Homo sapiens: one gene and its partners. The protein of the gene in region 2 purifies or fractionates together with the protein of the main gene of each other region. This does not show direct contact. Each region holds a gene or a part of one and is shown on either strand. Other genes may lie near its edges. The genes, in order: ISCA1, RAB40B and DCAF17.

What was found.
Region 1: the proteins of RAB40B (region 2) and ISCA1 purify together in Homo sapiens (affinity purification with mass spectrometry; 3 studies listed by BioGRID and IntAct, with this or other methods). This does not show direct contact.
Region 3: the proteins of RAB40B (region 2) and DCAF17 purify together in Homo sapiens (affinity purification with mass spectrometry; 3 studies listed by BioGRID and IntAct, with this or other methods). This does not show direct contact.

The regions. Positions count from the first base shown.
Region 1 is NC_000009.12:86,279,504-86,289,412, reverse strand, and holds the start of ISCA1 (iron-sulfur cluster assembly 1 homolog, mitochondrial precursor), read left to right. Parts: upstream 1-6,874; 5' UTR 6,875-6,954; coding exon 6,955-7,035; intron 7,036-7,331; exon of another isoform or gene 7,332-7,444; intron 7,445-7,959; exon of another isoform or gene 7,960-9,909. UniProt on the Homo sapiens protein: Involved in the maturation of mitochondrial 4Fe-4S proteins functioning late in the iron-sulfur cluster assembly pathway. Probably involved in the binding of an intermediate of Fe/S cluster assembly.
Region 2 is NC_000017.11:82,694,077-82,703,581, forward strand, and holds the start of RAB40B (ras-related protein Rab-40B), read right to left. Parts: upstream 4,623-9,505; 5' UTR 4,521-4,622; coding exon 4,379-4,520; intron 2,778-4,378; exon of another isoform or gene 2,313-2,777; intron 1-2,312. UniProt on the Homo sapiens protein: RAB40B small GTPase acts as substrate-recognition components of the ECS(RAB40B) E3 ubiquitin ligase complex which mediates the ubiquitination of target proteins.
Region 3 is NC_000002.12:171,427,881-171,438,323, forward strand, and holds the start of DCAF17 (DDB1- and CUL4-associated factor 17), read left to right. Parts: upstream 1-6,345; 5' UTR 6,346-6,697; coding exon 6,698-6,823; exon of another isoform or gene 6,824-6,892; intron 6,893-6,895; exon of another isoform or gene 6,896-7,117; intron 7,118-7,202; coding exon 7,203-7,306; intron 7,307-10,443. Other genes in the region: METTL8 (tRNA N(3)-cytidine methyltransferase METTL8, mitochondrial isoform 2 precursor), read right to left, coding at 6,794-6,801. UniProt on the Homo sapiens protein: May function as a substrate receptor for CUL4-DDB1 E3 ubiquitin-protein ligase complex.

The DNA of each region.
Region 1 (9,909 bases), on a different chromosome or scaffold from region 2:
ATTCATACTTTCCCCCATTGGTTTGAAATGCAAACTTCATTATGTATTACTTTGTTACATATAATCACTTAAGAATTTCTCAGGTCTCTTCAGTTTTTTCGTTGATCTATTTGTTCAGACTCCAGAACAAAATTTAGTAACTATTCTGTGGTATTGGTTTTAATCAGTAATCCTCATTTGTGTCCTCCACCTGTAAATATAATAAATTTCCCTTTTTCCTTTTATATCAATAAGTTATTGCTACAATGATTACCATCCACAGCTTCGTATCTGCAGAGTAATGATCTAAGATATTTATTTCTGGCCAGATAATTCTTTGCAATCTATTATGTTTGGCTGCAAATGAAGATACTGAATTATACAAGGCAGAACCTTAAGTTCGTCTGGTGCTCTGTACCAACATGGAAATAGTGAATATGTAAATGTATTAAAATGAGATCACTCTAGGAACCTGTCTGCATTCAGAAAGAATTTTGACTAAGCTTATATTTAATTAATCATGTGCATATATACTTTTCAATATCAAGTCTTATTACTTGATTCAAAACAAGTGACCAATTCTAGTATGAAGTTTTTGTGACTACTTAATAAGAAGTAATTTTATGGCTTTTGTCATAAAGCGAGGCTTGTTTCATTTATATTGGGTTTTGTTTCTTCCCCTCCTCTAGGTAGCCTTTCCAGTAAATATATGACTCAGGGAAAAGCCTCAGCGAAGAGGACCCAGCAGGAATCATGAGGGAAGGAAAATGCAGCACTCTAAATGGCCACTCAGGCGTTCCTATTCACTCGGAAAATTAGGTTCATTTCACAGGACACAGCAGTGTAGATCAGGCTTCAACTTAACATTTAAGGGAAATGTCAGATTTTTTTTTAATTTAATGAAATTGTTAATGAGGAAAAATTTTTAATATAGTCTTATCTACCACACATCCCCATAGATTTAAGGATTTTAATAGAAAGACATGATGTATGTATTTAAGCCACGTTAAAAGAAAAAATATAACTATGGACCGGTATTCAGTGAATACAGTTTCATGGTTTTTAATTCTTTCAAAGCACATTAAAAATGGTGTGCTGATAAACCCCAAGTAAATTAACCCTTTTTCCGTATAAATCCATTTTTTGTTTTGAAGAGGGGAAATTATATTTATTGTTGTTTACTGAATCCTGGTGTGAAAGCATATCAGATATGTATGAACTGCTACTGCTGTACTTCCGATTTACGGACATCATTTTATTGCTATTTGTAGACGTGATAACATGAACATGAGTACCTATTTATGTGGGCCTTCAGTGGATGGGCAGTGCCACTCAGGTCTCTGGGGTTTCCCTCTCTAATTTTAAGTAAATTGACATATAACTACTATGCTTATAAAAATGAAGTAAGGAAAACAAGTAGTCCTGTTTGCCACTAAAAACATTTTCAAAGGAAAAATAAAATGAAAGTACTTTTTACTTTTTATGATACTCAGAAATTAGGATGAAGAACTTTTAAAATTGCTGAAGATCAAAGAGGTTATCTCTGCCAGTCACAAGTGTGGCTGGTGTCATTCTGGGTCTGACTGGAGCCCTCCTGGACTGTTTCTTTAATTTCAAAAGCCCTGCAGACATAGTACCTGGTCAGAACTATGCCTCGGTTTATTTATCATTTTGAAATAAAATCAGAATTTCAACCTGTAATTTTATCTACATTATTTTCTAGTGAAAGATTCCTAAATTTCCTGGGGAAAAAAAAAAAAGATCAAGGAGTGAGAACATTGGGAATGATAGTAAGAGGCGTTTAACAAAAAAGAAGAAAGGACAAATATACTCCCCTAAAATAGTGTACACAGACTTCCCTTTGACTTGTGCCCTTGCAATCATTGGTGTGTGTTAACATCCAGTGTGTTCCAGGCTCTGGGAACGTATAAATTTGTTATTATAAAAGGCACAGATGGGGGTGGGGGGGCGGGGAATTTGTAGGCAGGGAGGCTCAGGGGGTGCTTGCTGGACGAACATTCTGGATGTTTGAGGACTCAGAAGACGCACATCCCTGTGCCCTTCTTTTTTAAACAATTATTTGAAGACAGTCTAGCTAAAGACGAATCATATCAAAATTAAAGACTTCAGAATTTGGAGGCCATGGTAGAAAGAATTAGTGATCATTCCCTACTCATTTTGAACGCAAACTAATGAATGACGCAACCTGGGCTGATGCTGCTCTACGTGACCGTCCTCAGCTGCCCCCTTCTGGTTTCTTCTCTCTAACTCATGCATGAAAGTCGACTAGGCTTACAATGCTTGTCACACTTTTCTTTGAAAAGCCCATTGATGCTGTTCTGTTGTTTTCTAGCATTATAGCAGAAGACAAGTCTAAGACCAGGCTGATTTTTGTTCTCTTGTAGGTTTTGTTTTTCTGCCTGGGTGCTTCTGTTTTTTAATTTTATCCCTGTAATTCAGAAAGAAAATTACCTCAATATAGAAATACATCTATCCAGTGACTTTTCATGCTAGGAAAACTTCAAGTTTAATCTCTACATGACTGGCTTAATTTTTACTGTCATTCTGGTGCTTCCTGTTTCTAATATGGATTTTCTCATTGCACTTCTAATTTTCTGGAATTTGCCTCACTGACCTTCCTTTACCTCTCATTTCTTTAGTTTACTTATATTCTCTTCCTTTTCATAGGAGCCATATTTTCTTGTATCCCTTTAAGGATGTTAAAAGTTTCCTACATTTTAATCTGATCCTTAAGGTAGCTTCTGCCCAAAGTACTGGGTCTTTTGTTTGATTTTCAATACCTCACACTGGATCCATGGGACAATGAGCAGTATTTGCCAGCAGGCCTGGATAATGGATTGCCCTTGATTCTTTACCTGGATGTGGTCGCAGCCCCATCTTGCTGCCCCAGCTGGGATGCCAAAACGTCTGCTCTTTGCTAAGTCCATTGGCCTAGCTATCTTTCAAGTGCAGCCGGCTTATCTATCTTAAGCTGTACAAATGCCCCATTACCAAGGTTCTCCTTGCCACCTTCTCTCAGGAACAAAAATATGAAATCTCTTTTGTATAGCAGTGGTCCAGTGGCCCCAATCTATGATGTTTAAAACTCTTGCTTGGCTGGGTGCAGTGGCTCACCCCTGTAATCCCAGCACTTTGGGAGGCCGAGGCGGGCAGATCGCTTGAGGTCAGGAGTTCGAGACCAGCCTGGCCAACATGGCAAAACCCCGTCTCTACTAAAAATACAAAAATTAGCTGGGCTTGGTAATGGGCATCTGTAATCCCAGCTACTCAGAAGGCTGAGGCAGGAGAATCACTTGAACCCAGGAGACGGAGGTTGCAATGAGCCAAGATTGCACCACTGCACTCCAGCCTCGGCGACAGAGCAAGACTCCATCTCAAACAACAACAACAACAACAAAACTCTTGCTCAATGTGTGCAGGATCAGCAGTGTGCAAAAATGTTTTTAAATGTTCTTAGATAACTTCAGTGTATTTTTCTTCTTGAAATATGTTTGACAAATGGCTTCTACTTTTAAATCTTTCCTGAGTGGAAAAGATCCTGGATAAATACATCAATAGAGTTCAGTGTTACAAGCAAAAATATACACACACACGTTGAAAACAGAATTTATCAAACCCCTGTAAAACTGTAAAGCCCTCAGTAGTTTTTTCTTTGGAAGCAGGCATATTTGGACAGCAGCAGTCAAGAACTACATAGACTTTCCACTGAATGGAACTCTAGACTTAGACAAGGTCTGGCCCACCTCGTTTTCCAGCTGTGTGGCAGTCCCCTAATCTCAGGCAGTTCAGTTTCCATTCCTATAAAATGGAAACCATTCTTGGCTTTCCACACAGTTGTGATAATCAAGTGAGGTCTTACCAGGAAAACACTTCTTTAAATGTCTAGAACTATGAAACTAATGCCTGAAGTGCGGGGTGAAACAGTTCCCTATTGCAAGTTCTGTCACATATTAGTGGAAATCTAAAAGTGGTTACAGCTTGTAACTCTTTTGACACTTCCCATACCCACCTCATTTTGACACCACTGGACAGCTGCTGCTCTGAGATAAGCTCACATACTGCTTAAATAATCGTGAAAATTATTTATTCTAACATAACATTATTTCAGGGACTTGTGCCAGTTTCAAGTGATATTAGAAACTAACAAGTAGATTATGTGACTTAATGCTTATGTGCAAAACAACTAACCAAGTTAAAAACTGAATAGTGGGGTTTTCTTTTTTGTTTGTTTTTGTTAAATAGTGGGTATTAAATAGAGGAAAGAAGTCTGTTAAACATACACAGGATCCTGAATCAGAAAATTGAGGACTAGATGTTTTCAATAGTGTCTAATGCTCTCTACTAAAATCCTTGAGTTTCAGCATCTGTAAAACTGCCATGCCAGTGCTTCTGCCCTACTCAGTTCAAAGTTGTGAGGCTAGTATGAGATAATATAATATGCTCATGGAGTTTTCTGAATCTTGTAAAGTGCTGCACAACTGTGTAATGTGTCAATAACTGAAAAAAAAATGACAGCATCTTTTATTTTTATTAAATTTTAATTTTAGGGCTGTTTTAGGTTCACAGCAAAGTTAAGCAGAAAAACAGAACTGCATATATCCCTTGTTTCCACATGTGCCTCACTGTCACTCTGCACCACAGTGGTACACTTGTTACAATCTTAAACCTACATGGACACATCATTAGCTCTCAGTGCCCATAGTTTACCTTAGGGTTCACTCTTGGTGGTGTACATTGTGTGGGTTTTGACAAACGCATAATGATATCTATCCACCATTATAGTAGTTTCACAATACATGGCATCTTTAAATACTCATTAACAATTACCATTTGAGTGAGGCTGTGTGCCTTGCACCCCTCTAAGGGCTTCTCCTGTATTAACTCATTTAATCTTCACAATATCTGTAGGAGGGAGGATATGAGATCCCAAACCCCCAGGTAGTCAAAGATGAAGGCCAAGAAACAAACCCACCACACCACCACCTCTCTATGTCCCTCCCTCCCTCCCTTCCTCCCTCCCATCACTTTTTCAGTTTCTTTCTTTCGAGATGCAGTCTCGCTCTGTCACCCAGGCTGGGGTGCAGTGGCGCAATCTTGGCTCACTGCAACCTCCGCCTCCTGGGTAGCTGGGATTACAGGTGCCCGCAAACACGCCCGGCTAATTTTTGTATTTTTAGTAGAGACGGGGTTTCACCATGTTGGCCAGGCTGGTCTAGAACTCCTTATCTCAAGTAATCTGCCGGCCTCCGGCCTCCCAAAGTGCTGGGATTACACGTGTGAGCCACTGCGCCCGGCCCCCAGTTTCTTTTATTTTCTTTCTTTCTCTCTCTTTCTTTCTTCTTTCTATCTGTCTGTCTGTCTCTCTCTTCCTATCTTCCGTTCTTTCTTTTTTTTTTTGAGACAGAGTCTCACTCCGTTGCCCAGGCTGGGAGTGCAGTGGCACGATCTCAGCTCACTGCAACCTCCGCCTCCCAGGTTCAAGCGATTCTCCTGCCTCAGCCTCCTGAGTAGCTAGGATAACAGGTGTGCACCACCACACCCGGCTAATTTTTGTATTTTTAGCAGAGATGGGGTCTCACCATGTTGGCCAACCTGGTCTCGAACTCCTGACCTCAGGTGATCTCCCCGCCTCGGCCTCCCAAAGTGCTGGGATTACAGGCGTGAGCCACGCGCCCGGCCCCCAGTTTATGTGCAGATAAGGCTTAGGGGAAAAAAAAAAGCGTCCTCTTATTGTCAATGCGATTGCATTTCTGTAGCAGGAAGTCAGAACTACTTGATGGAATTTTGAACTATCCTTTCAGAAACTGCAGGAGATCGAAGATAAACTTGGCTTTAAAAAATGTTTCACTGATTAGTTCTTCCCACATTCAAACACTGCGAATCTGTCCTCCCCAGGACTGCTTCATAGACCCCTCCTGCCCTTTTTCCTTCACTTCTAGCACTTCAATGACAAATGCCACCTGTCTTGATGTCCTCCTCTCTTCATCTGCTAGCCCTGTCCTGCCAGTATCTCATTCTTCCCTGGCCCCTCTTTACCTGGCTTCCTGTGTATGCCTGGGTACCGCGCCTGTGCAGTGTCTGGTGCTCAGGAATACTGCATCAAAAGGCAGAATTAAGCCCCTGAGCAGCCAGGACAAGGTCTGACAACACGTTTTAAATCGAGTAATTGTTGCTCGCTATAAATGTGACTATTCACACTGCTGCCCAGTCACATTTTCAAGTAGGGTTGGTTCCCAGTTCAGCACCAGAATGAAAACTGCATTAGTCACCACCCTTCAGCATCCCCAGCAGTACAGCACGCTGGGGAGAAGGGTGGAGGGTGGCGATTATACAACTCTGCGGTAACGCCATGCTCTTAAGAACAGCCTAATTGGACCACAAAAGAAGAATGAAAATGGATGTAGATGTCTGGGCATCGGAACGATCACTCTGCATTTGAGAGCATAAGCTCCCAGTGCAGGGTTGACTTATGCGTCCTTAAGTGTCACCGCCTATGATGGTGTTTGTCACGGTGAGTATTAAAGCAGGGGGTGACGCTGCACCTTGCCCCGGGGGCAGGTGGTGAAGCTACGTGCATCCGGAGTCAGCAGGTCTGAGGTCATTCCTCGCCCCCTCCCGCCCGCTCCCCGACGTCACGCCGACTCCGTCCTCGGCGGTGAAGACATTCCTCCCGGGCCCTGCGCCCTGCAGCGTGGTAACCCCACTGCCGGAGACCGTGCGCAACCCAGCTGCTAGACCCCCGGCGTTGAGCGGCAAAACCCCGCCCCGAGCGGCTTGCCCCGCCCCCGGCTCGTCACTCATGCAACTCACCCAATGGTGGCGGCGGGGGGCGGGGCTAGGACTGAGGGCGCCGTGCGCCGAAGCTTGTGGCGTCAATGCGCCCGCCGTGTCCATGGAGAGAAGCTGAGGCGGCCGACCTTCGGCCCGAGGCACCGGGGCGCCGGGACGGCGAAGATGTCGGCTTCCTTAGTCCGGGCAACTGTCCGGGCTGTGAGCAAGAGGAAGCTGCAGCCCACCCGGGCAGCCCTCACCCTGGTGAGTGCTCGCGGCGCGCGGCGGGGCCCGTGACATTGCTCGTGTCCGCCCCGTGCAAGGGGAGGTCACGGCGGCCGGGAGTGGGGCCGCAGGGACGCGGACACGTCAGACCTCGGCGTCGCTCCGACCCGCCGCACAGCCTCGCCGCCTCCTTCGCCTCCGGCCCCTCTTTGCAACGATAAACAAGTCCCGGGCGGGGCTGCTCTCTTGGCCCCGGAAACTACGTTTCCCGTCAGGCCGCGCGGCAACCGCGTGCGGGCCGGAGGGGATCCCGGGGGTGGGCGTCCCCGGGGGCCGATCGCCTCCACACTCCTGCCGGCCTGCGCTGTTCGGCCGTTCCGGTTAAGCAGAGGCTGAACGTGCCCGGTGGCGGGGGTTCCCGGTGGTGGCCCGGAGTCCTAGCCTGGAGGTGCGTGGGGTGGGGAGGGACCAGGCTGTCCGAAGGACCGCTGTGTCGGGGCGACAGCGTTCGCAGAGGGCGAGCACAGCGACAACAAAGCCCCCGGCTCCTGCCGAGGTCACGGCCGCGGCGCGCAAAGCGTTACTTGCCGGTGTCCTGGGTGATTGAGGCCTTTGAAACTCCCTCTGTGCCTCTAGCAAGCCTAGGCTCTTAGGACAAAAGATGATTTCCCAGAGTGAGTTTACAGCCTTTTCTGGGTGAAAGGTCAAACACTCAGAGGGCACCAGAGTGCAACCATTGATTACTTAGAGAATTCACTGAGCTCAGTGTTCCGGCCGCACCGTTCAGTTTTTTAGTGGAAGGAAAATCCACATAACATAAAATTAGTCCTTTTAAAGGGTACAATTCAGTGCCATTTAAGACATTCACAGTGTCGTGCAACCATCACCTCTATCTAGTTCCAAAATACTTTCACCCCAAAAGAAAAATTTATGATCACGTTCCTACATACACTCCCCTTTTAGTGAAGGAGACGACTTTATGCAACCATTCGCTTAGAGACTGGGAAAAAAAACGATTTAAATTGACTCATCGATTCTGTTGCATCTAATGCCAAAAGGGCCTATTACCAGAAAATAAGTTTGTAGCAAAGTAGAAGAAAATTGTGATCAGGTGAGAGAATTTATTTTTATAATCAATTTTTTAGGCCTTTGATATTACCCTGATTATATATGGTACTACTAGTGTACTGATTATGTATCATTCTATATTACCTCTTTTCTGTAGGAGCAAGCTTATTTTCATACACCGTGGGATGTAGAATTAAACAAGGTTTTAAGAACTAGAGGGCACAACTCATTCTTTGTGTCTCTTTCAATCTCAGTAAGAATTATTCAGAATTCTTCCACTGGTAATGGTAGATCCAGGAAGAGCCAGAAGGTTCAGGAACAGTTTTTGCCTTTTCTTTTTTGCTTTTTAGCAACCCTATTAACTGGGTTTTTTGTTTTTTGTTTTTTGTTTGTTTGTTTGTTTTTGTTTGTTTTGTTTTTGGAGACAGGGTCTCACTCTATCTCCCAGGCTGTAGTTCAGTGGTGCAATCATGGCACACTGCAGCGTCAACCTCCTGGGCCCAAGCGATCCTCCCACCTCAGGCTCCCAAGTCGCTGGGACCACCGGTGTGCACCGTCATGCATGCACCTAGGGTCTCCCTGGGTTGCCCAGGCTGGTCTCGAACTCCTGGGCTCAAGCAGTCCACTGCCTCAGGCTCCCAGTGTGCAGGGATTACAGGTGTGAGCCACCATGCCTGGTCCCTGATGTCTTTCTCCATCACCATTTGACATGTTACCTCTTCCTTCAGAATTTCTTTTTTTTTTTTTTTTTTTTGAGACAGGGTTTCGCTGGGTTGCCCAGGCTGGAGTGCAGTGGCGTGATCTCAGCTCACTGCAGCCTCTGCCTACTGAGTTCAAGCAACTCTCTGCCTCAGCCTCCTGAGTAGCTGGGATTACAGACGCCCACCACCATGCCCAGCTTATTTATTTATTTATTTTTGTATTTTTAGTAGAGATGGGGTTTCACCATCTTCACCAGGCTGGTCTTGGACTCCTGACCTCGTGATCCACTCGTCTCAGCCTCCCAAAGTGCTGGGATCACAGGCATGAGCCACCGTGCCTTGCCCTTCCTTCAGAATTTCTATGTCAGTCCCTTTCTCTCCATTCCTAGTCATTCAGCAGACATTTATCAAGATCTGCTGTGTTTCAAGACAAATGAATGAGTTATACAGTTCCCAGCCTACGGGGCACAGTCGCAGGCCAAGCCTTTGCCACCTCTTACTAGGAGTAATAGCACTGCACATTCTCAGGCTTGGTCTCTCTCCACACTTGCTCCCCTCTGCTTCAGTACATGTTATCATAGCAGTTCTCAAGGTATCCATGTTGCCTGACTCAGCTGTTTTGATTAACTTGCAGGAGTCTACTGTCTGTACTCTGTTGTCCTACTTAAGTATGGCTGACTTTAGAAGCTTCTCAGAAGCTGTACCAGAGAGAAGGCACATCAATGCTGTTTTCCACACAGCCTGTGTTGGTGGGCTTGCAGTCATTTTAGTTCCAGCATTCGTGCCCTAGTCAGGACACTATGGCATGTATTGCTCTTTGTGCTTAGTTTATCATCAGCATGTATCGTCAAGTGCAAAAGTAGTGATGCCGTCAAAGGCCTAATGAATGGAGACAGATAAGAGAGCAAACAAAAGTATACGTAATTCAGTAAAACTGATTGGAAGAGGTAAATGTTACTTGGGTCTAATAAGTAGAGACAGATAAGAGCAAACACAAGTATACCTAATTCAGTAAAACTGATTGGAAGGGATAAATGTTACCTGGATATATAAATTTTGATGTTAGGAATTTGACATGTTGCAACATTTGAAAAGTGCTATATGTGTGGAGTCTACCAGATGTCAACAAAAGGCTAGGAAAAGT
Region 2 (9,505 bases):
CATCTCAAAAAAAAAAAAAAAAAAAAGGAAAACTCCAAAACTAAGAGAAAATTAGGAGACAAAAATAACATCTTTACTGAACTAATCAATAAGTTAGAAACAGCTAGAACAGTTTACTGAAATCAAAATTACCAACAAATAGGAAAGGCATAAGATAATCAGAAAAATTCAGGCCGCGCACTGTGGCTCACACCTGTAATCCCAGCACTTTGGGAGGCTGAGCTAAGCAGATCACCTGAGGTTAGGGGTTCGAGACCACCCTGGCCAACATGGAAACCCCGTCTCTACTAAAAATACAAAAACAAATTGGCCCAGTGTGGTGGCAGGCACCTGTAATCCCAGCTACCTGGGAGGTTGAAGCAGGCGAATCACTTGAACCTGGGAGGTGGAGGTTGCAGTGAGGTGAGATCACACCACTGCACTCCAACCTGGGCAACAGATTGAGACTACATCTAAGAAAAAAAAAATACATACACACACACATACACACACACACCTGGAAACTCAAAGAGTACGTTCATACTAAAAGTTTAACACAAACATTCAACTCTGAGACATGGTCTGGTTAAGCAGAAGAACTATGAGACAAAAAGAAAGAATTCCTCAGAAATTCATGAAGGGAAGGACAAGCCTCCACATGGGGAAAAATCAGCTGACCTCAGGCTTCCCCACAGCACATGTGAGCCAGGGGATGGTGGAATGACAGCTGCAAAGTGTTGGGGAAGAAAATAAATCTAAGAGTATTATACCCAGCCAAGATATCTCTACATTGTTCAAAGATAAAGACCATGGGCAGACATTCTCAGACACAAAAAAACACTCAGGAAATACTCGAGTCCTTCTGAAAAAACGACTGATAATGAAATCTAGGTGATTAAGAGGGACAGCACAATGAACAGAGACATAAATGGTAAAAGGACTTTGGTGAGCACTGACTGTATTTAAATGTTGAATTGATACTAAATCATTGCGGGCACTACAGCCACAATACAGAAGCAAGGGCTATAAACCTGGACAATATAAAAATAACAGCCTGGGCTACAAAACTCAGGAGGAATTGGGTGGAGGGAAATGGAGTGTGGAGTTACGAACGCCCTCATCTTTCTTTCTTTCTTTCTTTCTTTTTTTTTTTTCGAGACAAAATCTCACTCTGTCGCTGGGCTGGAGTGCAATGGTGTGATCTCAGCTCACTTCACCCTCCACCTCCTGGGTTCCAGCGATTCTCCTGCCTCAGCCTCCCAAGTAGCTGGGATTACAGGCACGCGGCACCACGCCCAGCTAATTTTTGTATTTTTAGTAGAGATAGGGTTTCACCATGTTGACCAGGCTGGTCTCAAACTCCTGACCTCATGACCCGCCCACCTTGGCCTCCCCAAGTGCTGGGATTACAGCTGTGAGCCACTGCGCCCGGCTGCCCTCACCTTTCAATAACAAGCACCTATAGTGTTTCTCAGCGAAACATGTCATTAAAAAAAAAAAAAAACATGGCCAGGTGCTGTGGCTCAGGCCTATAATCTCAGCATTTGAGGAGGCCAAAAAAGGAGGATGGCTTGAACCCAGGAGGGTCAAGGCTGCAGTGATCTGCAATCACACCACTGCACTCCAGCCTGGGCGGCAGAGAAGACCCTGTCTCTGAAAAAATAAAAAACAAAACATAATGATCTCAACTTCTTACTATTTTTCAGAATATCTTTTCTTAACTCTAAAACAAATATTTGGTAAATCAAAAACCTGCAAGGGTACACCCGTGATATCAGTTTTTTCTACAGCAGCTCAGGCCAAGTAGACAATAAAGCTCTTGATGGGATTTTTTTTTTAAGACAGAATTTCGCTCTTGTTGCCCAGGCTGGAGTACAATGGTGCGATCTCTGCAACCTCCGCCTCCCGGGTTCAAGCAATTCTCCTGCCTCAGCCTCCCGAGTAGCTGGGATTACAGACATGTGACACCATGCTCGGCTAATTTTTGTATTTATAGTAGAGACAGGGTTTCTCCATGTTGATCAGGCTGGTCTCGAACCCCTGACCTCAGGTGATCCGCCCGCCTTGGCCTCCCAAAGCCGGGATTACAGGTGTGAGCCACCGCCCCCGGCCCGGTGGGAGGTGTATTTTTAGCCTAAATCCTCCCTCCGTGTCAAGGGAAAGCCTTTATTACAAAGCATTGGACCATTGTTTTGGTTCGTCCTCAGTTCGGCATGTAGCAACCAAAAGTCACGCAGCAGAAGCATCCCCGAGCCTCCATTCAAACCAACCAGAAGGAAGTTTCACAAACATTCTGTGCGTGACCCTTCTCACACACGCCCCACGGCACTCACCTTCAATCAAACTCAACACTGTCAACCGTCTGCTCCCCCAAAACACGCACAGCTCTTAAAGCGCCATATTCGTCTGGGCGTACACGTTGTTGGGTGCTTTATTCCTGTAGCTCTGGTAGGGTTCATCCCTCACTGAGCCCAGACCCCGAGGGCACAGTGCAGACAAAGCCCTGTCCTCCAGGCGCTCAATCTCCAGCCCTGTCCTCCAGGCGCTCAATCTCCAGCCCTGTCCTCCAGGCGCTCAATCTCCAGCCCTGTCCTCCAGGCGCTCAATCTCCAGCCCTGTCCTCCAGGCGCTCAATCTCCAGCCCTGTCCTCCAGGCGCTCAATCTCCAGCCCTGTCCTCCAGGCGCTCAATCTCCAGCCCTGTCCTCCAGGCGCTCAATCTCCAGCCCTGTCCTCCAGGCGCTCAATCTCCAGGGCAGCGCTGGCCCTCGGACTTTGCCACAGCGACATCCGAACTATCTAGAAATGTGACGAATGGAAGCTTTTTGTTTTCTTTCCTTCTAATTACACTTCCACAGCCACACGTGGCTCATGGCATCCTACTGGACACCACGGTCCTAGAGACCTGCCACCGAGCGGGGAGGGGGGTAGGACATGCGGGGGCAGCGGCGCCTGGGGACAGGTAGAGACGCAGGCTCCCCTCCTGCCCCACGGAGCACACTCTGCACCCACCAGCTGCCAGAGACTCCCCCGCATGCTGCAGTTTCAGGAGGCCTCTGGGTGCTGGTCGTGAGCCCAAGCCCATCTCAGCTGCTCCCCCAAACTCTGCCCATTCCTCACCCCGTCCCCTAAGCTGAGGTGTGGCCGGGCACCTGAGTCCCACCCCACGCTCCACAGTCTCAGGCCACCCCCTCCAGCCGTGCCACACTCCCTTGGTGCTCACGCCGCCTGCCTGGAGCTGCCCTTAGGGGACAGCCTGCACCCTCTACCGAGCAGCCTCAGATCCCGCTTCCTCCCACCCTCTCCCGCTAAGTTCGTCTCTGGCAGGACCCTGGACCTGGGGCTTCCCAGACCCTTCCCAGGCCCCAGAGCTGACAGGTCCTTCCCACCAAGACTCCATCTCCACGCCCGGCTGCCCTCCTCCGCCCAGGACTCAGAGCGGGTCTCTGTTGGAAGCGTGGGTTCAGCCCCGAGGCGCGGCAGGAAGGTGGGCACAGGCTGGGCTCCTTCCACAGCCTCAGGGTCGGCCTCGTCCAAGCTGTTCCAGGGATGCGCGTGGGTGAAGGCCCCGCCTGCTCCTCACTCCCAGCCGAGGTGTTCGCCTCTGCGCGTTCCCCCTTCTCCTGGGTTCCTGCCCCCGCCTTTCTTTCCCCGGAGCCGTCCACCCCCTCGCCGGGCGCCGGCTTTCAAGCCTCAAACTTGGGGGATCCCCGGGCTGCCTGCCTGGGAGCTCTGGGCGCTCCGGCCTCCCCTCGCCCTGGAACCCGCTCTCCGGCCGCTGTCGTGGGGGGTCCCCTCTTCCGCACGCGAGTCACCTGTGCTCCTTCCTCTCCCCCGGACACGCGGGACCCCTGGCCTCGGGACCGGACCCTGGTCTCCCCTCCCCTCCGACCCACGCGCAGACCCAGCACCTGGGCGCCTGCTCGCCGCGCTCCGCCCCAGGAGCCCCGGAGCTCGCGTCCCCTCCCGCCCCTCCTGCCCCGCGGCCGAACGCGCACTTGCGGACTCGAGCCCCCGCCCCGGGTCCCCACAGCAGCGGCCCCAGGTCGGGAGGAGCCCAGCGCCCGGCCCAGCCGCGGGCTCCCGCTGCGCGCAGACTGCGGAGAAGGATGGAGACTGCGCCGCGGGGCCTCGAGTGGAACTGGGGGTGCAACAGGGACGCCGCAGCACGAGGGCCAGGGCCGGGCGGAGAAAGGCCCGCCCGCGAACCGCGCTCCTCCTCAGCCCCGCGCCCCCGGACCGGGACTCCTACCCTCCCCGGCCACGCGCCCCGGCCTCTTCCCGACCCCTGCCCGGTCTCGCGTCCCCGGACCCGGACCCCCACCCGCACCCCCTCCCCAGCCCCGCGCCCCTCCCCGGCCCCGCGCCCGCACCCCGGCACGCCCTCCGCCCGCGCTCACCCGCCGGGTGGCCGTACGGGGACTCGGCCGCGCCATCCTGCAGGCTCGCCAGGATCTCGCCCTTGCCCACGTCGCTGTCGCCCACCAGCAGGAACTTGAGCAGAAAGTCGTAGGCCCGGACCGGGCTGCCCAGGGCGCTCATCGTGACGGCCCGGCGCCCCCACCCATGCCCGGCCTGCGGGGCTGAGCGCAGAGGCGGCGGCCCGGCCCCGAGAGGCGCCGCGCGGGCCCCGAGTCCTTGCTCGCCTCCGGCCCCGCCCCGCCGCCCAGCGCTGACAGCGCGCATCCCCGCCCGGCCCCGCCATTGGTGGACCGCAGTTGCTAGGGCAGCTGCGCGCTTTCACTGGCTTGGTTGTCCGTCCATCTTACTCTCGTCACCGCCTCCGGGCTGTCGCCCACCCGCCCCTCCTGAAAGGTCGCTGTCACCACAGCCAATGGAGGCCCGGAGACGGGGCAGGGGCGGAGCCAGAACAAGCAGGAGGCGGGGACTCTGCTCCCGCAGCCAATGGCGGGGCGGGGTGGGGGCGATCAGGGGGTGGGGCCGGGTGTTTACACTCTCGCGTGCGCCCGTGAGCGCCACGAACTCGCTCCCACGGTCGTCGGGTCTGCACGCCCCGAGTCGGGAGGGGCGAGGGGCGGTGCAGGGTCCCAGCGTGGGGCCTCCCCACCTGCCCACCAGGGAGACCTCGGGTGCCTGGCCGGGTGGGGCTCGGGGTCGGTCCAGTTGGCGGACGCGGCCGGAAGGCCCCCGCAGGCCGCCTCGCCGGAGGAGTCCCTGTCGCCGTAGAATCCAGGCTCGCGGTCTCTCCCCACGGTTCATCCAGGGCCTCGTCGTTGCCCCATTTACGCGGCGTGCCTGAATGCCTGTGTGTGCACATGCGCCTGTGTACGTGTGCATGTGTTCGTGTGTGTGCATGTCTGCGTGTGCATGTGTGCCTCTGCAGATATCTGCACATGTATGTGTCTGCGTGTGCATGTGTCCCTCTGCAGGTGTCTGCACATCTATGTGTCTGCGTGTGCATGTGTCCCTCTGCAGGTGTCTGCACATGTATGTGCGTGTGCATGTGTCCCTCTGCAGATGTCTGCACATCTGTGTGTCTGCGTGTGCATGTGTGCCTCTGCAGGTGTCTGCACATGTATGTGCGTGTGCATGTGTGCCTTTGCAGGCATCTTTGCATGTGTGTGTCTGCGTGTGCTGCTTCTATGCATGCGCTCCTATGTGTGCGTGCGCTTGTTTGTGCATCCATGCATGTGTTTGCGTGCGTGCTGGAGGAGAGCATTGGGTGGGACCCTCCAGCCTTTTGGCTTCTCCTCTGCTCTAGAGAGCAAGGGTTGCCAGGCCGAGGTCTGCCCTTCGCTCTGAGGGTCTCACCAGGTGCACATTGGTTTATTTGGTGCAGAATTCAGGCAGCAGGCAAAGGGCGAGCTCCGTCCAAGAAGAAGGATAATGCCCCCACTACTTCATCCCCTCCACCCTGCGTTGTGTAGGGAACTGCTCTAGACCCCATTAGAAGTTTTTTGTGGGGGAGGAACAGAAGAGGGAGCGGAAGAAGAATTACAAAAGAGACTGAAGTCAAGATTATTATATTTGTCATTTGCATTCATTTGGACCTAGAAAATGTTTACTTTGGAATGCCAATTTAGTTTGCAACACCTGTTATTCATTGGTTGATTAGTTGCTTTAGTTACTAATGCAGCCACATTTTTTTTTTTTTGAGACAGAGTCTTGCTCTGTTGCCCAGGCTGGAGTGCAGTGATGTAATCTTGGCTCACTGCAACTTCCACCTCCTGGATTCAAGCCTCCCAAGTAGCTAGGATTACAGGCATGTGCCACCACACCCAGCTAATTTTTGCATTTTTAGTAGAGATGGGATTTTGCCATGTTGGCCAGGCTGGTCTTTGACTCCTGACCTCAAGTGATCGACCTCGGCCTCCCAAAATGCTGGGATTGCAGCACTGTTTTTTTTTAGAAGGAAGGTCAGAGGAAGAAAAGAGGATGGAAGGTGGACGCTAGAAAACTATGAGAAAGATGGCATTTAGTCCCCAGCCCCACCACTCTGCCAAAAAGAATTCAGGGGAGTTTCCTTCCCATCCCTAACCCTCAGTCTCCATGTTCCAATCAGCTGTGGGTCACATGGCTATTACCTAGTGAGGAAAGGGTACCTTCTTTTGCTCGCTCCCCACCTACACATCCAGACTCACTGTACAATAGGGGTCAGGAGGCCCCCAGCCCACCCTCGGGGTCACACCCAGCAGTCCAGCAGTGTTCACGGTGGGGCATGGAGAGGGGTGGCCAGACCACTTCCTACAGAGGACAGGTGATGGGGGAGCCCTTGTCTGCTCTTCTCCTGCCCCACAGAAGGTCCTCACCACCTCCTAGTTGTCACCTCCAAGCTGGCCTTGGCTGAGCTGGAACATGGCCACTCCCACCTGGAGGGCCAGGTAAAATAACCACGTCAGAAGAGGGCTGTGTTCAGATATGGTGTCCATCTTCTTGCCCCAAACATTGCTTTCACCAAACAGAGGTGTTTATTTCTACAGCCAAAGCAGGTTTCCTCCCACCAGGGCCCCCAGTTTCCTGAGGGACAGTCCTGTGGTGGGATACCTCTTCCTCCTCCCCAGTTTCAGTACATGTGTAAAGTCCAGGCAGAGGGTGGAGGTGTCTGGACAGCACTAGCCTACCTTCTGCCCAACTCAGAGCCAGGCTTCCAGACCTGTCCATCTCGGATCATCGGAACATTCCTCCCTGTGGCCACGCTGAAATCTCCTTGAACATCCACCCACCCATGATCTGGGGCTGCTCTGGAGACTAGGCCTCTGTGGGCAGAAGGAATGAAAGGAACATTTACTGATGCTTCTCCACGAGTAAAATGTCATCAGAAGGTGGAGGTGAGGCCGGGCGTGGTGGCTCATGCTTGTAATCCCAGCACTTTGGGAAGCCAAGGTGGGTGGATCACTTGAGGTCAGGAGTTCGAGACCAGCCTGGTTAACGTAGCAAAACCCCATCTCTACTAAAAATACAAAAATTAGCTGAGCACGGTGGCGCTAGCCTGTAGTCCCAGCTACTCAGGAGGCTGAGGCAGGAGAATTGCTTGAACCCAGGAGGCAGAGGTTGTAGTGAGCCGCTGTCACACCACTGGACTCCGGCCTGGGCAACAGAGTGAGATGCTATCTTAAAAAAAAAAAAAAAAAGGCCGGGCGCGGTGGCTCAAGCCTGTAATCCCAGCACTTTGGGAGGCCAAGGCGGGTGGATCACGAGTTCAGGAGATCGAGACTATCCTGGCTAACACGGTGAAACCCCGTCTCTACTAAAAATACAAAAAAATTAGCCGGGCGTGGTGGCAGGCGCCTGTAGTCCCAGCTATTTGGGAGTCAGAAGAATGGCGTGAAACAGGGAGGCGGAGCTTGCAGTGAGCCAAGATCGTGCCACTGCACTCCAGCTGGGGTGAGAGAGCGAGACTCCGTCTCAAAAAAAAAAAAGTCATCTTGTTTAGGCTTGTCTGCAGTCGTGAGAAAACAGGAGACAAAGGTTCACCACGTATGAAGTTTTGGTTGTCTGGGTTGAATGGAGTCCCTAAAAAGATTTATTGAAATCACACCCTCTGGAAGCTGTGACTGTGACCTTAGTTGGAAATACTTTGGTCTTTGCAGATGTAATCAGGTTAGGAGGAGGTCCGTAGGGTGGGCTCTAATCCAATAGGACCATGAAAGGGTCTCAGAGACCTGTGGGGGCCCATGGGCCCCACTGTGAAAACTGCTGCTCTGAGCCATGCCTGTGCTCCTGCCAACTCCTGCCTGTGACCATGTAGGTGTGGCCCACGAGGAGACTCCAGCAGTGAGATGTGAGGGCGTCTGCTGGGGGTTCGCAAACAGGAACGCAGACTCCAAGTCTCCTCTCAGCGTCTGGGCACTGTGGGCCCACCCACGAGCCTCCTGTCCTGTGATACAGAGCAGCTCCCTGGTGCCACCTCCAGATGGATTTTCTGTTGCTGGAAGTTAAACCAGCCTCAGTAATTCACATAATATCTATTTCAGCATTTTCCCACGGAGGGGGCACAGGGAGGGGGCATTTTTCTTTTTTCTTCTTCCAAATTTAGCTTGAAGGCTAACATGTTTTTCATTTTTAAAATAGTTCCGTCTGTGATGTGCAAACAGTGGAAATGCAACTTGAACCAGCCTAAGCACGATGTCGATTTTATGGAAGGATGGTTGGGAGTGTCTCCTGTGAGCTGGGAAGGGCTGACCGGCTGTGCTGTGGGAAGGGCCAGGTGTGGCCGGCCTGGAAGTAGCTGAGCCAGGGACCCAGTGCCGGCGAGGCCGGCCCACCTGCCGCCTTTGTTCCTCCCACGGTGCCCGCTGGTCTTCCTGTCGCTGCAGAGGGGCTCCCTCCTCACAGGAGAAAACATGGCCCCCAGGTTTCACCCCTTGGAGAGAGAACGGCCTCACTCACTCTCAGGTCTGATCCCCAAATTCCCATATAAGGGAATTCCCCAGTGGGGATCAGTGCCCACCTCCGGGTGAATCAACTACATTGGGGGTCTCATCATGCTTGGGGCCCCGCATCTCTGCATCTTAGTGCGTCCTCTGAGCGCACGGAACTGAAACCCCAGCAGATGACGCAGCTTCCAGCCGGGAGGGCCAGCGGGGGCAGAGGCAACAAGGTCACAGCTGGATGAGGCTGGTGGGCGAGGCAGAGGCCGTCGCCAGGCCCCTCTCTGCTCTCCCCTGCACTACGGGACCCCTGCACCGCTGCCCCTCACACAGTCCCCTCTTCCCTTCAGAAGCAGAGCCCCCCGCCAGTGGTTCCCACGCTGGAGCAGGGCACAGCGGCCACACCCAGAGGCTCCCATTCAGCACTGGGGGCCCAGGAATCTGCATTTGCAACGTGGTTACAGATGGTGGTGATGCTACAGCTCCAGGAACCCCACTTTGAGAACTAAGTGGGAGGGGATCTCTCCAAACATGGCTGCACCAGCGCCCACCCCCGACGGGAGACAGCACGTGCCTTCCGAGTGCTCATAGGGGAAGCCTGCGTCCGCCTTCCAGCCCTGTGGTCTCTGGTCTTCCCAGCGGGTGAGGGCCCCGGGCACTGGCTCTGCCCTTTGGGCACAGCAGGGAGGGTTCGGG
Region 3 (10,443 bases), on a different chromosome or scaffold from region 2:
AAAACAAAAACATGTTGAACAAATGACTTCCTATAGCTTAGTTAAAATTTGTCTCTGAATAAATGTTCAAGTTTAATAACCTGAGTATTTTATACATTTATTCAGTTATACTATGTTTCTTTAAACAAAGTATATGAACAAAAAGCATTTTATTAACTTTTGAATTAATATTTCTTCTTTCTTGTCTTTAAAATATCATGGCTAGGATGGTTAAGTATTCTGTAAACATAACACAGACAAAGAATAGAAAAAAAGAAGAACTAATATTTGTTCTATGCCCAAAACTAAGAGAAATCATTTTCCAATCATAAAACTGTATCTATTTATGCCATTTTACCTTCAACAAATGGAAAATATCTACTTCATAGGTAGAAGTCTTAAGGATTTAAGTTTTTTTGAAAGTTATTAATATTGTGACTTCCTACTGATTTAAGGAATAAGTGGAGACTAAATCTGCATCTAAGCTAAAAGTAGCTGCTATTGCCAAGTATTGTGGTATATGCCTGTAATCCCACTATACATGCCAGCTACTCAGGAGGCTGAGGCGGGATGATCGCTTGAGCCCAGGAGTTCAGCACCAGCCTTTGAGATTTCTTCTCAAGCAAATAAAGTTAAAAAAAAAAAAAGTACTTAGCTGTTGATAATAGATTCTATACAAACATATTGTTTTTTATAGCCCATTCATTTATTCAACATACATATGCATTAACCACATTTTAGGTAGTGTAAAGCAGGGAGAATTATATTACTACTCAGTTTCTGCCCAGGTTAGTTGAGAAGACAGACAAATGACAATTCTAGTATAGTGCCACAACAGTATACACAGTAACATGGAAGCACAGAAAAGGCTACTAACCAAGCTGGAGGAGTTAGGGGAAGGGTCTCAGTGGAGCTGTGATACCTGGGATGAGTCTTGAGATCAACTGATAAGAGGAGAGGAAAGGAAGCTTCAGATAAAGAAAATCTCAAATATAAAGGCACATTGGCTTGAGAAAGTCAGCAAACATGTCAGAACCACAAAAGCAAACATGAGGGATGGCCAAAGAGATGAGGCTGAAAATGTGGGCAAGATAATGAAAACATGGGAAGATAATGAAGTGCCTGGTATTCTACCCAAAGAGATTCAGATTTTGTACTATAAGGTACCTTATGTGAACCCCTAGGGATTTTGTACACATATCTTCAAGGCTATGAGATTTCTGTAGGAGAAACCTTTCATTTTCAATTTGATAAAAATCTTTCAAAAAAAAAAAAGAATATTAACAAAAGGACACTCTGGATCATCTGAATGAGCACTTTTTAATTGAGTGCTGTCACAAGATTTGAATTCACACGTGTGTTTAGGAGTGTATTGCTAAACAAGTGGTGCTGTTTGTCATTGATACATGTTAATGAGAATGAAATGGGGACTACTGTATGTAAATGATGTTGTTTGTCAAGTAAAGGACAAATGAAGCCATGACATACTGAACAAATGAAGGTTTTGTGGTGATTTATATAAAGAAAAGAGGTGAAGGCATCAAGTAATCTCTCAACACAAGGGCAATATGGACAGACCTTTCTGTAAGGAAGGTACGCCACAGAGGACATTCATGATTAGAGCTTTTTAGGTCCAACTAAAGTCTCATTGCTCACAATCATTTGAATTTATTGGTTTTATAGCTTTGTTTCATTTAACTTGTAAATGTTCGGGTGTTATCGGTGTATAAAAGATACAACACACACATAAAAAAATTAAAAAGACAAAAAACAAGAAAGAGACAAGATGAGGAGTTTATACCTAATTTTATCTTTGCATATATGTGACATACTAAAAAGGTTTTAAGTTAACAATGGAGGATCCTGAGTATCTTATTTGGGTATAAGAAATACTGCTCAGCCAGGCGTGGTGGCTCACGCCTGTAATCCCAGCAGTTTGGGAGGCAGACGCAGGCAGATCACCTGAGGTCAGGAGTTTGAGACCAGCCTGACCAATATGATGAAACCCCATCTCTACTAAAAATACAAAAATTAGCTGGGTGTGGTGGCATGTGCCTGTAATCCCAGCTACTCGGGAGGCTAAGACAGGAGAATCACTTGAACCCGGGAAGCAGAGGTTGCAGTGAGCCGAGATCACACCATTGCACTCCAGCCTGGGCAACAAGAGCAAAAAAACTCCGTCTCAAAAAGAAAAAAAAAAAAGGAATTCTGCTATGGGCCAGGAACGGTAGCTCATGCCTATAATCCCAGCACTTTGGGAGGCCAAAGTGGGCGGATCATCTGAGGTCAGGAGTTCACAACCAGCCTGGCCAACATGGTGAAACCCCGTCTCTACTAAAAATATTAAAATTAGCCAGGGATGGTGGTGTGCGCCTGTAATGCCAGCAACTGGGGAGGCTGAGGCAGGAGAATCACTTGAACCTGGGAGGTGGAGGCTGCAGTGAGCCGAGATAGCCCCACCGCACTCCAGCCTGGACAACAGAGCAAGACTCCATCTCAAAAACAAAAAACAAAAAAAAAAGGGAGCCTGTCTAGGGGCTAGGGGAGGGATAGCATTAGGAGAAATACTTAATGTAGGTGACGGGTTGATGGGTGCAGCAAATCACGATGGCACATGTATACCTATATAACAAAACTGCACGTTCTACACATGTACCCCAGAACTTACAGTATAATAAAAATAAATAAATAAATAAGAAATTCTGCTATGGGTGTTCGGAGCTGCTGAAAGAATGCAACAGGCAAGTGACAGCTTGTGCTTTAGGAAAATCACTCTGGCAGCAGTATGGAGGAGGGCTGGAATTAAAAGTACCCAAGTGATAGCAGCAGGAGGCAGACAAATCCTAGGCAGATGGGGGTGGGTCCCCAGTGAAACCTGACCTTCAAGCTGAAGACAGCTTAAAGCCTAGCTACATGTCCTGGATAAATCTATGGACCAGATCGAGAACCTCTCTTCCCATTTGGTGCACTTTCCTCTGATTGATCCCCACCCTTCACCTATTTTACATATACCCACCCTTCTCTAATTTGTTTTTTCACACTGTTGTGCCCACCTTTGAGTGGTGCCTTTGTTTTAGCCTATTTTGCATACTCACAAACCAATCAGCATGCACTTCCCCATTCTGAGCCCATAAAAGCCCCAGACCCAGCCATGCCAGAAGAGAGGCCAAACTACTTTGGGTGGGGGACCACCCTTGCGTCCCCTCTTGGCTGAGAATGAAAGGAGTTAGCCAGCTTGCTTTAGGCAGACAGTAAGGGAAGCGTCCCTGAAGAACCTACGACGTGCCCCAAAAGTGCTTACACCAGATGTTTTGTGCACATAAGGGAATTTGCACAGGGGGCTTGCCTAAACATGCCCACAATAGAAAATTCCATTCCCTAACACATGTGCAGTAAGGGAAATAACCAATATGGAGTAGCTCAGACTAAGGGCCCACGAGCACACTGGAAGGATGGGGTGGAGCCTCCAGAAATTTGCACCTTAAGCCCAGGTATTCAACTGTAAAGGGGGCAACCAGCAACCTGCTTTCAGGACCCCTTTCTTTACTGGGAGCTTTCCTTTCACTAAATAAATTCTACTCCACTCACTCTCCGGGGTCCACACACCTAATTCTTACTGATTGTGAGACAAAAACTCAGACCTAGCTGAGCTAAGAGCAAAAATCCTGCATCAAGAGCTGTTTTGTTGCTCAATAAAACTCTTCTCTGTCCTCCTCACCCTCCGATTGTTAGTGTAATCTCATTCTTGGACACAGGACAAGAGCTCAGGATGCCACCAAACATGGGTAGGAAGAAGAGAGTAACACGGTAGCTCTCTGCCCCACCAGCAGCGCCTGGTAGCCACCCTATGCAACAAGAAGCAGGGCGGGGGGCCAGGCCAGCCCCAGGGCCATGGGCGGGAGTGGGGTAACAGGACTGATAGGGCTGTTAACATGCCCCTGTTCGTCAGGCTGCAGAGGGCAGATCTAAAAGAGCTGTTAGCATGCTGTAACACCCACCTCTGGGGCTTCTGGGTTGCCTGACCCATTTGGTTACCACCACCTTCCCCTAGTCTGGACTCCAGAGCCCACTGTGGGAGTCACTTGTGACATGCCTGGTCCAGCCGCAAGCGGTGCACGGAGCCAGCTCCTGTGCCGGCACTTGGAGCAACCAGCTGGATACCACACAACTCTGCACTCACCAGCTCAGACACCCTCTCCTGCCAGGGGCTGAGCCCACAGTCAGGTGGCCACAGGATCCACACCTGCGTGCAAGCCAGGAGTGGCCCAGTGGGCCAGTTGTGCAGGGCACCTCCTGTGGCAAGCCCAGCCCGAGCAAGGCCTGGGTAGGTCTCCAGCTGCGGAGGTCTCCAGTGGCAAAGCAACGTCAAAAAAAAAAAATCCTGTGTCACAAGTAAGGCAGAAATTAAGAGACTACTTAATAATGTGATAAAAAATGGTGAGGCCCTAAATTACTTAGGTGAAATGAAGATGAGATGGATAAGAGTCTAAAGGACTTGGTTGTGGGTGAGGAACAGCAAGGCATCCAGGATGACTCTCCCTTGGTGACGACTTGGTGGTGAAATAAAGGCCACAAGAAAGAAGACAAACAAGTGGGGGCAAAGAGGAAAGAGAAATGAGAGAGTTGATGAATTCAATTCAGAAATGATTTGAATTTCATTTAAGCCAAAGAAAACCCAGTTATCTTTTCTGGGTTCCAGTTTTCTCAGTGACAGCTGCATTCATGAATTACCAAATTAACTATTGTAGCACTCTCTAAAAATATACAAAGCACTCTACCGTATGCTGTAAATAAGTCATGAAAAATCAGCAAAAGCTCGAGCCCTGAAGGAAATTCAGCAGGGTTAAAAAGAGATATGGCCAATGTTTACTAAACACTTAAACTGTGACCCAACACACTCACCCAGTACTGTAAGTACTCACTTAATGTCATCAACAGATTTTTGGAAACTGACTGTAAGCAAAATGACATATAACAAAACCATTTTTACCATAGGCCAATTGATATAAACAAAAGTTAAGTTCCTATAACATATTTCTGGTCACAAAAACATCACCAAACTCCTAAATACAAACCAAAACACTTCTAATATTAAACATTGAAATAAATGGGAGCTATACATACATTTAAGGAAGATTAATAAAAACAAGTAAGATAGTTATTTACCTAATTATTCCAGTTCAGGGTCGAGGGTGGCTGAAGCCTATCCCCTCAGCTCAGGGTGCAAGGTGGGAACCAACCCTTGGACACGACGACATTCCATCGCAGGGAGCACTCACACTCACACTCAGACAGGAAACACAGACAAGGCCAATTCATCCAGCCTGCACTGAGATGTGGGAGGCAGTACCCTGGGGTACCTGGTGAAAACCCATGCAGACGTGGGGAGAAGGGGCAAGATCCACACAAACAGTAGCCCCGGTAGGAAATTATTATTTTTTCTCATCAAGTTATACAAAATGACACTGAACGAAAAAATGCGATTCAAGGACCTGCTGTACTGTACTTTTTGCTCTGCCAGTCAGGTGCGATCGCTGGCTTTCTTTGAGCACCTATGAACAAGAGGTAGCATGCCCAAGTCCACGTGGGAGATACAGCGGCCCCACCCTTAAGGGACTTAGAGCATGGCGGTGGGACACATGTGGTGCAAGCTTGCTGAAAGTTTAGTGTGCTGGGAACTTTGAACATACAGGCAGGGCTAGTTAACAAAGTATATCTTTTACTTAGAGACATCGACGAGGAATATCTTAGGCCGTCCAATAAGAATGTAAGCATTTCATATTTTATTCCCTATAAAGAAAAAAGAATGGAGGCGAGAGGAAATGAAATGAAGCAATTATCGCAAAACCAGTCAGTGTCCCCGCAGGCCACCCAAGGACAAGCCTCCGGGAAAGAGTAACTCAATCCCAGTTTGGAGGGTGAAACTAAGAGTGAATGGGAAGCCAGCATCTTCCTAATACAAAAGCACAGTTTACCGTCCCCCTCAGCCAACATGCGGCTGAAGGGAAAGCCGCGGGGCGTACCTTTAGCACGGGACGCTGCTTTGGGGGGATCGCCCTCGACACAGCGCCCCTCCCGGCACCTGGCCAGAACCTCCCAGGGCGAAGGTCGGGGCCGAGAAGCTTGTGAGTACCGGGGCAGTGAGGGAGGGATCCCTAAGTGCAGGGCGCACACACGGGGCGGAGACCTGGAGGCGGCAGCACCGCGCCCCCAGGGCTCTGCCCAGCTAGCCACTCGCAGCACAGAGAAGCGCGCCCGCAAGACAGCGCAGCCTCCGCGGGCCGGAGGAGGCGGGGCCGCGGCAGGCAGAGGCAGGGCCGGGCAAGCCCTCGCTCCCCGCCGCCTGACGGGAATTGTAGTTCCTGGGAGAAGCCGGGCTGCCTCACGAGGCACTAGGAACTACATTTCCCGGTGAGAGAGCGGCTCCGGCCGGCCGCGCGGTACCGGAGCGTCGCACTGTCAGCGGCCAGAGAGCCTGGGGCAGATCGAAAAGGGAGTGCTTCTTCCCTTCTCTCCGCGCTCTGGCGGTGCAAGCGGCTCTGCTTTCCCTCGCCCCGCCGTCGGGTGCTCCCTGCCCGCCTCCCCGTGTCAGCTTTCCCTGGGCCCCGCCGGGAAAGTCTGGGCCTCGAAATTCGAAGGCAGCGGCGGCTGCCCAGCACGGGAGTGTGGGGCGCGCCACTCGGCGGCCCAGCCTACCCAGGGCCCGGCCCGCGCCTCCATGGGCCCGACCCGGAAGCCCAACGTGTGCAGCCGGCTGAGTCGCCGGGCGCTGGGCTGCTTCTCGCGCGACGCAGGCGTGGTGCAGAGGACCAACCTGGGCATCCTGCGGGCGCTGGTGTGCCAGGTGACCGCCAGCCGGCCGGGGCGGGACGGAGGGCCGCGGGCGCGCGGCGGCCGAGCCTCCTGCGGGGATGCGGTTTTAACGCGCTGGGGCCTCCCTTTATAGGGTCACATGTGATGGGGAGGAGGATACAAGCCCGGAATCTGGGATAGGTGGTAATAGGGCCACCAGCTGCTTTTAGTTTTACGCTTCTTATGTCTTACCTGGAAACAATTATTCTAAAAGTTGGTCACCTCATTAAGCCAAAACATGAGGGCAGAGTGGAGGAAGGATGCAAAAAGTTTTAAAATAATATAGGTGACATTATGTTGCTTTGAAAATTTAAAATCTAACTTAAAGCCTAAGAGTTCTTTCCTGAACGGAAATTCTTTATGTCTTTTAGGAAAGTACTAAATTTAAGAATGTCTGGACAACTCATTCCAGGTCACCTATAGCCTATGAGAGAGGAAGAATATATTTTGACAATTATCGGCGCTGTGTCAGCAGGTAACTTTTTATTGATAATTTTGCTGTAATTCACCTCACTGTTGATCTTAACTATAATTTGTATAGAACCACATGCCTACATTAGTGCCTAGTGAAATAGAATGAAAAAAATGGGTCCGAAATAAGACTAGGCAGTAAAAAATGCATGTAATTTTAAAATCTTGTTAAATCTAAAGTTGCAGGTGTCATTTTTGTAAATACCAACTTAAAGCAAAACTACAGTGCAGGCAAAACCACAGATTGTTCAGAGTACTGTTTAGTGTTTAGTCTACTTATACCACAGTCAAGAAATCCAGTTGCCAATCAAATAATTAGATGCTGCTTTGGAGAATTGATGGATTGTGTTTTGGAAGTACTTGCCTTTTTTTTTTTTTTTTAGAGAAATTTTTTCAAACAAAAGCCTAGTATTTAGAGATCCAAAATGTTTAACAGTCAGCCTCATCCACAACTGTCCAACATGAGGGGGGAAGGAAAGCCACAATGCATCCCCATATACTCATTACCCAGATTCAAAAACTATCAAGATTTGCCACATTTGCTTTATCTAACCCACTTTTCCTTTTGCATGACCTCTTTTAAAGCATATTCTAAACATACATCAGTTTGCATTTTTAAAAAAATGAGCTTTTTTTATAGGCTTTATTAGGATATAATTCACATACCATATATTTACCCATTTAAAGTGTACAGTTCAATAATATTTAATGCATTCACAGATACATGTAATCACTACCACAGTTAATTTTAGAGCATTTTCATCACTTCAAAACAGAACCATGTACCTTTAAGCAGTCACCTCAGTACCACCATTACCCTCAGCCCTAAGCAACCACTAGTCTGTTTTCTGTCTGTAGATTCACCTATTCTGTACTTTTCATATAAATGGAATCATATAATATATGGTCTTTTGTAACTGGCTTTTTCACTTTGCGTGTTTTCAAGGTTCATCCATGTTGTCACATGCATCAGAATTCCTTTATAAAGTTGAATAATATTGCATTGTATCAATTACCACATTTTACGTATCCGTTTATCAGTTGTTAGACATTGGTGTTTCTACCTTTTAGCTATTATAAATAATGCTGCTATAAACATTTCCATGTAAGTTTTTATGTGGGCATTTATTTTCACTTCTCCTAGATTATACCTAGGAATGGAATTGGTAGGTCATAAGATTATACTGTAACTGCGTTTAATAGTTAGAAGAACTGCCATACACTTTTCTAAAGTGGTAGTACCATTTTATGTTCCCATAAGCAGTATATGAGGGTTCTGATTTTTCCACATTCTTGTCAACACTTGATGTGTGACTCACAGCATCTCACTGTGGTTTTGATTCCATTTTCCTGATGACTAGTGATGTCAGGCATCTTTTCTTGTGCATATTAGCCATTTGTATGTTATTCTTTGGAGAAATGTTTGGTTAGATATTTTGCCCACTTGTAAATTTTTTTTTTTTTTTTTACAAAAATCCTTACATATTTTAGATACAAGTCCCTTATCAGATATATGATTTCAAATACTTTCTCCCATTGTGTAGATTGTCTTTTTACTTTCCTGATGTTATTGTTTGAAACAGAGAGGTTAATTTTTTTTTTTTTTTTTGAGACAGAGTTTTGCTCTTGTTGCCCAGGCTGGAGTGCAATGGCGTGATCTCGGCTCACTGCAGTCTCCACCTTCCGGGTTCAGGTGATTCTCCTGCCTCAGCCTCCCGAGTAGCTGGGACTACAGGCATGCGCCACCACGCCTGGCTAATTTTGTATTTTTGGTAGAGACCGGGTTTCTCCATGTTGGTCAGGCTGGTCTCGAACGCCCAGCTTCAGGTGATCCGGCCACCTCGGCCTCCCAAAGTGCTGGGATTACAGGCATGAGCCACCGCGTCCAGCCACAGAGAGGTTAATTTTGATGAAGTCCAATTTATCTAAATTTTTTTCATTACTCATGCTTTTGGTGCCATATCTAAGAATCCATTGCAAAATTTGAGGTCATTAAGATTTGCTCCTAGGTTTTTTTCTAAAGGGTTTATAGTTTTAGCTCATATTTAGGTGGTTGATCCACTTTGAGTTAATTTTAGTATAGGGTATAAGGTAGGTATCCAACTCCATTTTTTTTAACATGCAGCTATACATTTGTCCTAGCACCATTTATTAGAAAGACTTTTCTTTCTTCATTGCAAGGCCTTGCCACCCTTGTCAAAAATCAATTGACCATAGACACTTTTGGATTTATTTCCGGACGTTCAAGTCTGTTCCACTGATCTGTATGTCTGTCCTTATGTCAATACCACATTGTCTTGATCACTGCTGCTGTGTTATTTCTTCTTTAAATGCTTGGTGGAATTAACCATTGAAAGCATCTGGGCTTGGCACTTTCTGTTTTGGTAGGTTGTTCATTATTGATTACATTTCTTTAATAGATACAGACTTATTCAAGTTATCTAATTCTCCTTGGGTAAATTTTGATAGATGGTGTCTTTCAAGGAATTCATCTAAGTTATCCAAACTTGTGAGCCTAGACTTATTCATAATATTTCTTTATTATTGTTTTAACGTCCATGAGATCGGTAGTGATAGCCACTCTTTAATTTCTCATATTAGTAATCAATTTTGTTGACCTTTTCAAAAAAACAGCTTTTGGTTTTGTTGATTTTCTCTATTGATTTTTGGTTTTCAATTTTACTACTTTCTGAGCTAATTTTTGTTATTTCTTTGCTTACTTTGGATTTAATTTGCTCTTCTTTTACTAGTTTCCTAAGGTAGAAACTTAGATTACGATTTGAAGTCTTTCTCCTTTTCTGCATATGCACTTACTGCTATACCTTTTCCTCTAAGCATTGTTTTTGTTGCATCCCACAAATGTTGATACGTTGTATGTGCATTTTCATTTAGTTCAGAATATTTTTAAATTTCTCCTGGGACTTCTTTGACCCATGTGTTATTTAGATGTGTGTTGTTCACTCTCCAAATATATTGGGATTTTCCAGTTATCATTGTTTTATTGATTTGTGGTTTAATACCACTATGACCCAAGAGCATACTTTATATTAGTTCTAGTCTTTTAAATTTGTTAAGGTGTCTTTTATGGCTCAGAATGTGGTCTACCTTGGTGAACGTTTCGTGTAAGCTTGAGAAGAATGT